Regions from separate parts of the Homo sapiens genome. Here regions 2 and 3 are each reported to be linked to region 1. The links are microRNA targets in miRTarBase. Many come from high-throughput screens and were not tested one by one. Region 1 holds a microRNA gene; each other region holds the end of a gene's coding sequence.

Region 1 (4,248 bases):
AAGTTATCAAAAGTAAAAAATTTTGTTACCAAAAGTCAAACTGCATTCTCAAAACTTTAAATTTGTGAAGAATGACAACAGTAGAAGCTTTCCTCTCCCCTTCTCACCTTGAGGAGATAAAAATTCTCTAGGCAGGAAAAGAAATGGAAGCCAGTTAGAAAAACATTGAAATAAGGCCAGGCACGGTGGCTCACACCTATAATCCCAACACTTTGGGAGGCCAAAGTGGGCAGATCACTTGTGGTCAGGACTTCGAGACCAGCCTGGCCAACGTGGTTACACCCTGTCTCTACTAAAAATACAAAAATTAGCTGGGCATGGTGCTGGGCACCTGTAATCCCAGCTACTCAGGAGGCTGAAGCAGGAAAATCGCTTGAACCTGGGAGGTGGAGGTTGCAATAAGATTGTGCCACTGCACTCCAGCCTGGGCAACAGAATGAAACTCCATCTCAAAAATAAATAAATACATATAAATAAATTTTTTAAAAAAGAAAAATATTAAAATAAGGCAATAATATAAGGGGGTATCTGAAAAGGAACAAATGCTTGTTCCTTACTTAGGGTTAGTGACAATGGAAAACAGATAGAAGTAGAAGCTACAGACCCATTTAGGGGCCCCAGCCCCCTGCTCCTCCCCCTTCCTGGCTAAGGAAAGCATGAGCCTATGAGAGAGAAATCCTAGGAAGAACAAGACAGTTGAGACAATGTAGCAGCAGTAGTGGGTGCTGTGTCCTACACTGGATTCGTGGTCTCCTAATAGAAAATCTCTCAGAGGAAATGGGTCCACAGGGACCTGAGAGCTCTAAACAGCTATGAAATCTGCCAGGATATTTCTGTCCATGCTATCTGCATCAGTGAGTTTAAAATGTAATAGGAGAAAAAAAAGAGACAAAACATTAACATAATAATTGATACAGCATAGTTTTGTACAAAGAAACCTAAATCCAAATACTTGACTCAGTATTTTGAAGCTAGTATTTTAAACTTTACTGGGTAAAGTATCTGATTGACATTTCTGAACCTTATTTTTCTCATCCACAATGTGGGAGTGATAATATTTTCCTTGCAGAGTTATTGACAGAATTTGAATAATCTTGGTATATAGACAGTGCCTTACACGTAGTATATAAATATATAAGAAAACACTGCAGTTATGTTTATAATGGATTTATTAAAAAGAATGGATCATATTATATGAAAAGTACATTTGTTTTCCTTAGCCCTTTAGTGATTTAGGAGATTCAAGCGTAGACGTAAAAGTGAGTTTCTTTTCATATGTTAACTGGAGGATTTTTTTCTTTCTTGAGAGGCTGAGATTGGGTTGCTAAGAGAACTCTTAGGACAAGAAGTTGTAATATTTGACTTCGGTTTTTAACTCTCTAAGGGGTATATTCCCTCCTTATGTCCCATAAATTTTAAGTCAAGGTGAATTATATGCAACAGCAGTTTATCCATATTTACTTTGGGGAGGAGGTGGGGAGACTCCGGGAGAAAATAATTATAAATGCAGACTGGGAATTAGTAAGTGCAGGGAATCTGAACCAGTGGTGATCATGAAAACGTCCATCACAGAACACAGAGGATTTTTAGGGCAATGAAACTACTCTATTTGATACCACAATGGTGAATAAATATCATTATGCGCTTGCCCAAATCCATAGAATGTACAACACCAAGAATGAACCTTAATATAAACTATGGACTTTGGGTGATAATGATGTGTCAGTGTAAGTTCATAAGTTGTAGCAAATGTACCTCTGTCATGAAGGATGTTACTAGTGGGGGAGGCTATGCATGTGTGGGAACAGAGAGCATATGGGATACATCTATCTGTACTCTACAATTTTTCTGGGAACCTAAAACTTCTCTAAAATAAACTCTATTAAAAAAAAAGAAAAGAAAAGGTCAACAATAATGATCCCAAATATATAAAATTAAAACTGTAGTATAAAAATGGTCACATGAAAATGCATGAATGTGCTAAGAACTTTTCTGCAATAGGATTTAAAATAAATTTTATATAAATTTCAATGATTCATGAGCCAAGAACCCAGCATTCTGGAGGTGTGTGCATTTGTGTGTGTGTGTGTGTGTGTGTGTGTGTGTGTGTGTGTGTAAGGCTTACATTGAATGGCATTATAACCAGAGTCATACAGAAATACACAAATGCTCCCCTATTTAGAATCCTTCCCCAAGAAATACTGAGGAAAGCAAATATAATGGTAGTTGGATTTTACTGAAAGAATGTATTCAAAAAGTATTTATATAATGTTAAAATAGCATAGCTAAAATTAGTTTTATAAAATAGAGCAAATATATCTTTTTATCAGCTAAAAGTTCAAAGTGAAATCATCATTATTATATTATTATATTATTATTATAAACAGTTATAAATCAGGCTGCATGATTTTAAATTAAATGATTCTTAAAAATTGTTATCTGAATTATTTCAGATTACATACATAAAGTATGACTTCATTAATAGGTAATATCACATTGTTTAAATTTTACAAAATTTCCAGTCACAATGGTTCATGCCTGTAATCTCAGCACAAGGTGAGGGTCCCTTAAAGCCCAGGAGATGGAGACCAGTCTGTAGTCCCAGCTAGTAGGGAGGCTGAGGCAGGAGGATTGCTGCTTGAGCCCAGGAGTTCGAGGCTGCAGTGAGCTAGGACTGACTGCACCACTGCACTCGCTCCAGCCTGGGCAACACAGCGAGACCCCGTCTCTAAAAATAAATAAATAAATGAATAAATAAATAAAAATTACAAAACGTAAAAATCACGTAAAATATTTCAGGTTTGTACTTACCACATACAAACTAGAGATATGAAGAATTAAACATTACAAATAAAGCACTTCACACACAGTCTGGCCCATAGTAAGCAGTTTATAGAAGTTAACAAATTTGTGTTATTGTTATTTTCTGGAGTCCAAGACAAAATCCCATGATGAATGACACCACAAGGATGTAAGCAACAAAATTCAGAATATGAGAAGTTCTACTAGATTAAATAAAAAGATTTCTCCAGCAAACAATTTGCAAAAAAAGTTAAAAATAGAGAAAAGAAAAGCTATACACTTGAAAAAGACTGAAGAAATATAGTAACCAAACGCTGAGCTTTGTCTAGATTCATATTCAAACAAAACATCTGTTAAAAAATTTATATGAGGCAATCAGAAAAATTGACACTGAGTGTATTAAGGAATTATTTATCTCGTTTTAAATGTGTTAGTGGCATTGCTGTTATGTTTCTAAAAAGCCATTATATTTTAGATTTTCATAATAAAAATGTATAAATGAAATATGATACCTAAAAATATCTTCAAAATAATCCAGTATGTGCCTGTATGATAACTGGGTGGGTTTACAAAATTGCTCATGAATTGATTATTGTTAAAGCAAGGCTGTTGATACATGGAATTCTTCTCTGTACTATTGCACACAGTTGAAATTTTCTGTAATACAAAGGTTTTTTTTTTAAATGTATTCAGGAAAGTCCCATAAACATAGGCAGACAAGCATTCTGTTTGAAGTTATGTTAGTTTTTCAGTTTTTCTCATTTTTATCACATTTAGGAAACCCTGTCCAAGGCCTGCCCAAGACTGTAAGAACCTCTCAGGAATGCAACTATAAAGAATGTGTATGCAGGAACTAATAATAACAAAGGAAAGCAAAGTAATGCTTGCTTTATTATTGGCTGGACTAAGCCCCCAGACTTGTTTATATATTCACTAATTCATCAAAAATGCAAAAATGGTCATTGAGTACCAGTGCTACAATAAGTACTCATAGTTTGTTGAATGTTATTAAAATAATGTGAAAACAATTACATTCATTATCTTCATAGAACTTACACTCCAGTGGGAGGAAAATACATATATTACATAATTCCACAAACATAGTTACAAGGTCTGAAACATTTATAAAGAAAAAGAATGAGGTAAAATGAGAGAGTGTTGCACAGGGACCAGGTATGGTTTGGGGCAGTTTAGAAGTGGCTTGAAGAAATGTATCTTGAGATGAAATAAGGTGGTATACAGTAGGTAAAGGACAAGGTTGAAGAGGCCAGAGCAAATGTTTGAGAAACTCTTACAATATGAAAGAGAAGATGAGAATAAAATAACATGAAAATTATCACAGATTTAATAGAGAAAGTTCATGTAACAGCAAACAAGTTTAAAGTCATTCTAATTAGAATTCTTGATCTGTAAAAGTAATAATAGAATGCTAAAAACAATTGGAAA
Region 2 (4,248 bases), not on the chromosome of region 1:
CCCAGGGATGAGCCTGTTGGTTCTCCCAGCTCGGGGATGTAACTCGACTCTTTCTTCCCAGTCAATTCAACACTTTTTGAGTGACTTTTACAAGCAGAGCATAGTGCTTTTATTCTGGAAGCTCACCGGGTAGTGGGGCCTTCCTGTCTGTAATATGTATGCACATGTATACCACATGGATCAGAGCCTCTCAGATCTCTGGGCTTAGCTGGAAATAGCAGAAGGACAGGTTCCTCGGCGGACCTGCTGAGTTATGTTTCTTCTGCAGGAGCAGGTGCCGAGAGGTTGCCCTGATGGGCTCTGCCCGCTGGACATGTTCTTGAATGCCATGTCAGTTTATACCTTAAGCCCAGAAAAATACCACGCACTCTGCTCTCAAACTCAGGTGATGGAAGTTGGAAATGAAGAGTAACTGATTTATAAAAGCAGGATGTGTTGATTTTAAAATAAAGTGCCTTTATACAATGCCTCCTGCTTTGTGTGTTTGGGAAGAGGAGAGAGCAAGGGGTAATGTACTTTAATATAATGTAAGGATATTTCCTTTCTGTGGGTTTACTAAGATTTCTTCCTGAACGGAAAAGGGGTATAATATTGAGACCAAAAGGATATTTCTCTATTTTGTGAGTTGGTTTCTAAGGTTAGAAGCATCTTTGTGTGACACGGGCTGGGGACATCATGACCCTGTAGAATTGTGTCGGTTTTGGACTTTAGTTCTTTTCTCCTATATTAATTTCACATGTATTGAGCTACCTACTAAGTAGTGATCATTATAAAGGTGAAAACACTCTGCCCTCAAGTTGTTGCAGTCCAGTGGGAGAGGCAGCCGAGTAAATCAGTGATACAGTGCTGTATGTTTTATGCTGTAATAGGTATTTGAGGGGCTATTTGGGTATAGAGAAGAAACTTCCTGCTCACATGGCAGGGGATGTGGGGAACAGTCAAGGAAGGCTTCTGAAAAAGTCCTGGCCTGATCTGAGTAGAGAAAGGTGGGTAGGAGTTAACCAGGAAAGCAAGGATGAAAGCGTGTTGCGTTTAGATAAAGGATAGGCTTCAAGGTCAGGGAACGTTGCTGGGTGGTGAGATGGAACCCTGATGTGGAGGCTCAGCAGGAAGAAGCAGGAAGGACACTGGGCCCCTGGTGGTTTTAGTTCCAGAAACAAATGTGGGCCCCAGGGCTCTGCAATGGTAAGGCTGGAACTACTCAACATAAGAGCTCCACCTTTAACTGTGCCCCCTAAGAGTACCTGATGATCCCCCTATCTCCTTGTCAATGTTGCTGTTCTTCTCCAGAATCTATTTCAACCCTTCTCTGATTTCAAACCACCAGTCCCTTTACCTCTCAGAGAAAACAGCAACCACAAAAGCCTCTCCACTTCCTACTATCTTAATATTGACAACTTCCAGATCAGGGAGCTGAGATATCTCAAGCTCAGGTTTCTCTTCTGAGCTTCAGACACTTTTATCCACTTGGATTTCACTGGCACAAAACTTTCCATGTTAGAATCAAACCCCCCTCCTCCCAGACCTGCTTCTCCCACACACTTCCCTATCTGAATGAAAGACACCTCCACTCTCCACCCAGTTGCCAAATCAGAAATCTGTCTTTGTTTTCTTTGTCTCACATTTTCCTATGTCTAATCAGTTAAGTTTTATCAATACTACCTGTTTATTTCTTTAATCTATTCACATATCTTTATCCTCAATCTTCAGCATCCCCTTCCCATCCTCAGTCTGCTGGTTACTGTATTTCCTATTTTACTAAGAATCTAAAAGAGATCAGAAGAAAACTTCCACATCCCCCAACACCCAACCACCAAATCTGCTAACCCAGTTGCATTGGTGCTTTTATAGCCTTCCTTCCTCCCTCTTACTAAGAATGAACCAACACTATTCCTATCAAAGCCCAACCCTCTAGCTTTACATTGACTCCTAGTGTCTTTTTTCTGGATTGTCAATTTTTTTCCTGACCAATTATTCTATTAGCAATACAAATATGCTGTAAAATCTCTTAAACTTTTTTCTCTGCATCTTTGAACTGCTGTTCTCTTTTCCTTCTCCCCTTCATAGCAGAACTCCTCAAAAGAGTTGCTACCTCTAATTCTTCCCTTCCAGTTCTCTCATGAACCAGCTACAATTAAGTATTCACCCCCACCACTCCATGGAAACTGCTCTTGTCAAAATCATCAATAGCCTTTGTGTGGTGAATCCAATAGCCAGTTTTCATTCTTCTTACTAAGCTTCTCATCAGTATTCCTAGACTATTTCCTTCACTGGCTTCGACAAATGCTTTCTTGGTTTTCCTCCAATTTCTCGACTTTGTTCCTGCTGAATCTACCTTTTTCTAATCCGTAAGTGTTGGGGTGTCCCAGGGCTTACTCCTTGGACCTTTTTTCCACCTTTTCCCCTACACTCACCCACTAGGTGATCTCAAGAATTTCCAGTTTGAGGCCGGGCGCGGTGGCTCACGCCTGTAATCCCAGCACTTTGGGAGGCCAAGGCAGGCAGATCACCTGAGGCCAGGAGTTCGAGACCAGCCTGGCCAACATGGCAAAACCCTGTCTCCACTAAACCTGCCTCTACTAAAAATACAAAAATTATTATATTTTTATAAAATTATTATAATTTTATAAAATTATTATATTTATGGAGTACAATGTGATGTAATCCCAGCTACTCGGAAGGCTGTATGTGTCTATTTATGGAGTACAATGTGCCTGTAATCCCAGCTACTTGGGAGGCTGAGGCAGGAGAATCACTTCAACCTAGGAGGCAGAGGTTGTGCTGAGCCAAGATCGTGCCATTGCACTCCAGCCTGGGCAACAAGAGAGAAATAACATCTCAAAAAAAAAAAAAGAATTTCCAGTTTTAAATATTTACACAATGTCTCCTAAATTTATACCTTCAACCTAGACCTTTCCCTGTGAATCCCAGTCTCATTTCCAACAGTCTAATCAATGTCTCTATTTGGATGTTTAAGATATACAATAGGTATCAAACTTCCCATTGTCCACAATAAACTCTCAATTTCCGTGCCTTTTCAAACTTACTCCTTCCACAGGCTTTCCCATCTAGGTAAATGACACCACCATTCACCCTGTTGCTTTGGCCAAGAACTTTAGAACTGCCCTTGACTCCCCTCTTTTTCTCATATCCTACCTCTACTACATCAGTAACTCCTGTTGTATCTCTCTTCAAACTATATCCAGAATTGACCATGTCCCAATACTTCCATTGCTACTGTCTTAGTCCCAGTGTCATCTTTTACCTGGATTATTGTAAAGGCCTCGTAACTAGTCTTCCTGTTTCTGCCCTTCCCTTCTCTGCCCATCTATTCTCAACACAGTGTTGCTTTTAAAACAAAGTAAGATCGTGCCACTCTTCTGCTCTAAATTCCCCATTGGTTTCTCATCTCAAACTAAGGGCCAGTCATAATGCCCTCACGGTCCTATGACATCTCACTGCACCCCAGCCATACTCGCCATCTTACCATTCTTCTTCTTTTTTGTAATAAAAACTTTTTACTTTCTTTTTAGTTGACAGATAATAATTGCGTATATTTATGGAGTACAATGTGATGTTTTGATATATGTATGCATGAGGGAATGATTAAATCAAGCTAATTAACATATTCATCACTTCATCTACTCATCACTTTCTTGTGGTGAAAATGTTTCAGATATACTCTTTAGTAGTTTTCAGGTGTACAGTCGCTGTGGTTTGAGTGCTTTTGTCTTCTCTAAATTTGATGTTGACACTTAGTGCCCAGTACAATGTTACTGGGAGGTGGAGCCTAATGGGGATGTTTAATGGATTAATGCCATTATAAAAAGGGCTTGCAGGAATGGGTTCCTTCTCTTTTGCTTTTCTGCCATATGATGACAAAGTGTTCCTCCTCTCTGGAGGATGCAGCAACAGGCACCATCTTTGAAGCAGAGAGACCAGGCCCTAACCTTCTGGTGCCTTGATCTTGGACTTCTCAGCTTCCAGAACTGTGAGATAATAAATTTCTGTTCATTACAAATTACCCCATCTGTGGTATTCTGTTATAGCAACACAAAATGGACTAAGACAACAGTATACTGTTATGAACTATGGTCACCATGCTGTGCACTAGATCACAAAAACTTATTTCTACTGTTTAACTGAAACTTTGTACATTTTGACTAACATCTCCCTTTTTCCCATCATCCCATCCCATTCTTACTATCGTTGAAGATGGAGTATGCCAAGTAGTCCTGAGCCATGTCC
Region 3 (4,248 bases), not on the chromosome of region 1:
ATATATGTATATATATATATACTGAGTAGATAGCCAAATCTGAACATGCTGCTCTTTCCCGGGTGCCTCTCCTTTGCCAGTTTTTTGGACACTGAAAAAACAGGGAGCTTGACATAAATTTTGAAAGTTCAGGCTGGGCGTGGTGGCTCACACCTGTAATCCCAGCACTTTGGGAGGCCGAGGCGGGTGGATCACCTAAGGTTGGGAGTTCCAGAGCAGCCTGGCCATTATGGTGAAACCCCGTCTCTACTAAAAATACAAAAATTAGCTGGGTGTGGTGGCACGTTCCTGTAATCCCAGCTACTCGGGAGGCTGAGGTAGTCGAATCGCTTGAACCTGGGAGGTGGAGGTTGCAGTGAGCCGAGATCATGCCACTGCACTCCAGCCTAGGTGACAGAGCAAGACTCTGTCTCAAAAAAAAAAAAGAAAGTTCACTAATCTTTGGAGTAAACAAAGCAAATGTAAGACTTCTGAACGATTGTGTGATCTTCAAATGTTCATCAGCTAGAAAAGGTCTGTTTATTGTTTAAGAGTTACTCATTTGCCAGACATTTTTTATTTTGTAATTTCTGTTTTTTTTTTTTTTCTACCAGAGCCTACATTCATCAGTACACAAAATTTGGAATCGAAGAAGAGGACTTTTTAGACAGTTTCACGTCATTAGAGCAGGTTGTTGCCAGTTACTGTAATCTCTGATCTTGAACAATGGGAAAAGTATACCTTAAGGCATTTCTGGACTAAAATATTTTCAATACTATTTTCTCTGTAAAGTTTTCAAAGTTCTCCATCCTGGCTAACACGGTGAAACACCGTCTCTACCAGAAAATACAAAAAATTAGCCAGGCGCGGTGGCGGGTGCCTGTAGTCCCAGCTACTCGGGAGGCTGAGGCAGGAGAATGACGTGAACCCAGGAGGCGGAGCTTGCAGTGAGCCGAGATCGCGCCACTGCACTCCAGCCTGGGCGACAGAGCGAGACTCCGTCTCAAAAAAAAAAAAAAAAAAAAATGTTTTCAAAGTTCCATTCTGTTAAAGTAACCACGTAGAATGCTGAGTCTATTCTGCATACTATGCCCACAGAAAAGGAAGAAAACTTTTTAAAATGGAGAATCGCATGTTTTCAATGAAAACATTCACTTGGTATTTCATTTGTAAGAAAAAAAAATGGTGCTTTTATAAAGAACTTTGGGGAAACACTTTGCTGAAATGTTGGGACTCTGGAACTAGCCAAGAAAAGAGAATATTCTCTTTGTCTACATGTTCCTAAATCTTTACTCCAAAACAACTCCAAAAACAACTCACAAAGCATGAACCAAACTTTCACAGCATAATTTCAAGCTAAGGAATTGTAATTCTGTACTTAATATATTCATGTTTGAAATGAATGCTTTGAACCACAGGAGGGAGATGTTGTCAAATGCTACAGTGTGAACATGTATTTTGAATATTCTGTAACAGGGCAAGTTTCCACTCTAAGCAGCTATTTAAAAATAAATATGAGGATTTTGGTAATAAATGCTTATGCTTAAGTACAAAAGTAAATAGGTAAATGTGTACTTAGTGTGCTTTTCTTAAACTTTTTGGGCATGAGAAAATTGGCTCAAATTTTGTTTTGGATCTTGGAATGCCAGAGCAGATATTGATTTTATTCAATTATTGCTTTAAAATTACTTATAATGGGCTGGGCATGGTGGCTCACACCTGTAATCCCAACACTTTGGGAGGGCAAAGTGGGAGGATCACTTGAGGCCAGGAGTTTGAGACCAGCCTGAGAAATACAGTAAGACCCCCATCTCTCCAAAAAAAAAAAAAAATTTTAATTAGCTGGGTGTGGTGGCATACACTTGTGGTCTGAGCTACTTTGGAGGTTTGGGTGGGAGGATCACTTGAGCCTGGGAGGTCGAGGCTGCAGTGAACTGGTATCGTGCCTCTGCATTCCAGCCCGGGTGACAGAGTAAGACTGTCTCCAAAAAAAAAAAAAAAGAATGAAATTACTTATAGGTATTCAGCTGGTACAGATGATGGTTATATGCTTTTCAGTAAAAGGGGTAAGAATTTTCACCTAAATTTTTCACTAAGTTGAGAAAATTATCACCAAGGAAATATAGTTACTTGATGAAATTGACGCACAAGATACGGGTTTCACCCAAGACAAAACGTGCTTGGAAATTGACAACTGAGTTTGAAGGGAATGTTGTATTTCCATAAAACACATCACATGCAATATATTAACAAATGTAAAATGATTAACAAATAGGAACATTTGCCCTTTCTGCCAAATCTACCAATAGTGACTTTTATATGGAAAAATGACAGTTCACAGCTTCACTGGTTCTTCTTTTTCTTTCCATATGGAAATGATTACCTTTTTGCTGTTTTTCTTATCAACTGTTGCTATGATTTAAAATACTGAACCATATCTTATTTGTAAGGAATGTAAAAAGTGGTCGGTTCTGCTGCTAAAAGGCACACCCCGCTGCTGCATTTCGTTAAGCCAAGTACACTTGAAAAATAATTAGATCATAATTTTTACCAAACAAGTTAAAGTAATTGTTTAAGCATTGAAGAGATCCACAGACTGAAACAATTTCCCAGACTAAACCAGCATTCATGAAGATCTGTAACTGAGTATCTCACCAGGGGTTAATCTGATTCTGAGGAACCTTACTAGAAGTTAACTTGAAAGAAAGTCGTAAGTTGAAATCATTTGATATTTGAGAAAATTCATGAGGTACCAATAGGGGCAAGTATATTTCTAATTTGGCAACTCGTGGAATCATTAGCAGGTGAACATTAGAAGCAAATCCCAACTAGACAGAGCTCTGGGTCCATTTACTTATGCTATTTGACCCTTTTTTATGATCCACAACTGCATTATTTGATATGTATGGTTACCTATTACATATATATGTGTGTGTGTGTGTGTGTATGTATTTTTTTTTTTTTTGAGACAGCGTCTCGCTCTGTCACCCAGGCTAGAGTGCAGTAGCATGATCTCAGCTCACTGCAGCCTCAACCTCCCAGGCTCAAGCAATCCTCCCACCTTAGACTCACTAATAACTGGGACTATAGGTGTGCACCACCATGCCCAGCTAATTTTTGTATTTTTGGTAGAGACGAAGTTTCCTCATGTTGCCTGGGCTGGTTTCAAACTCCTGGGCTCAGGCTATCTACCTGCCTCGGCCTCCCAAAGTGCTGAGATTACAGGCGTGAGCCACCATACCTGGCCAATGCCTAAATATTTTAAAGCTTGGGTTAAAACATTCACATGGAAAATAATTTTTTCTTGTCTACTTGGAATAACAAAATTTTTGCTCTTAAAGTTGTGATTTTAAGTTAAAAATTAACACCAAGATGCTGATGTCAAAACTTCAGATGGAGTGGCATTGGAAATGTGCTTTGATTTGTGTGGAGATAATGGCCAGTCAGCCAGGAGGACAACATTGGCTCCCTTAGCTCCTGGGCATACAGATCCAGAAAACTTTGAAAGTGTAATTTCTTAGATTATGGGATAACTGGCACATTACGTTGTCAAACATTATCCTGCAGAGCCAGAATGCACCCCTGTGGACAATGAGCACAGTGTGAATGCATACTGTTTCTTATTGTCAAGCTCTTTCTCTCTTACCTCCCCAATCTTTCCTCAAGAGCTTAAGCTGTAGAACCTGTTTTTTCCCATGCATTCGCCACTTCCAGCCCTGGGATCTCCCCGAAAACTCCCCTCCCCTATCCACCCTTACTATTCAATCTACAACATCTTTCAACATCTTTCTCCTATATTTTACCCATCACTTAGAACTCACTAAGTATGCCAACAATTCACTATTATCAGCCAATTCATCCATTCAACCAGTATCATCTATTCAGTGCCAGGCACTGAGGAAGATGTTAAGGATACAGGGATCAATGCTACCTTGTCTGAAGAAGCTTTTTGGGATGTTTAGTGCTACAATTCTAGCTTCCTAATTATTGCTTGTTATCTTGCCTGTGTGCATATTCACCTTTTTTCCAGGAAAGAATGTGGTCCAAGAAAGAAAGAAAGAACAATGAACTCAGAGCTCTGGTCTGGGCTAGGCTTAAGTGTTGAAATGTCTCTTCACTGGCTCTGTAGGCTCTATAAACTCTACTTTGCAGTATACATACTAGTGATTCTCCTGACCACCATGTGTATCACACTTGAATTCCTGTCCAAAATTTTCTTTTAAAACATACTGCATATGTCCCTAACCCACTATCTTCTCTCATGAGCCC

Evidence for each region. The annotated mature microRNA hsa-miR-3135b reads GGCUGGAGCGAGUGCAGUGGUG and lies in region 1 at 2,682-2,703, opposite strand. An mRNA with a match to its seed (bases 2 to 7 or 8) in the 3' UTR can be bound and repressed. Matches are read on the target gene's strand: a 7mer-m8 pairs with bases 2 to 8, a 7mer-A1 pairs with bases 2 to 7 and ends in A, and an 8mer does both.
Region 2: miRTarBase lists ACP6 as a target of hsa-miR-3135b. Seed matches in the 3' UTR shown: 7mer-m8 at 2,806-2,812.
Region 3: miRTarBase lists TUBD1 as a target of hsa-miR-3135b. Seed matches in the 3' UTR shown: 7mer-m8 at 951-957.

The regions. Positions count from the first base shown.
Region 1 is chr6:32,747,271-32,751,518 of GRCh38, forward strand. It overlaps MIR3135B (microRNA 3135b), which reads right to left and starts at 2,709; the gene lies at 2,642-2,709.
Region 2 is chr1:147,643,587-147,647,834 of GRCh38, reverse strand. It overlaps ACP6 (acid phosphatase 6, lysophosphatidic), which reads left to right. Exons shown (of 10, transcript NM_016361.5): 10 at 269-4,248. The coding sequence ends at 412. Among named protein-coding and RNA genes, the nearest start is that of ACP6, 25 kb to the left of the region's middle.
Region 3 is chr17:59,856,770-59,861,017 of GRCh38, reverse strand. It overlaps TUBD1 (tubulin delta 1), which reads left to right. Exons shown (of 9, transcript NM_016261.4): 9 at 594-1,539. The coding sequence ends at 696. Among named protein-coding and RNA genes, the nearest start is that of MIR21, 18 kb to the right of the region's middle.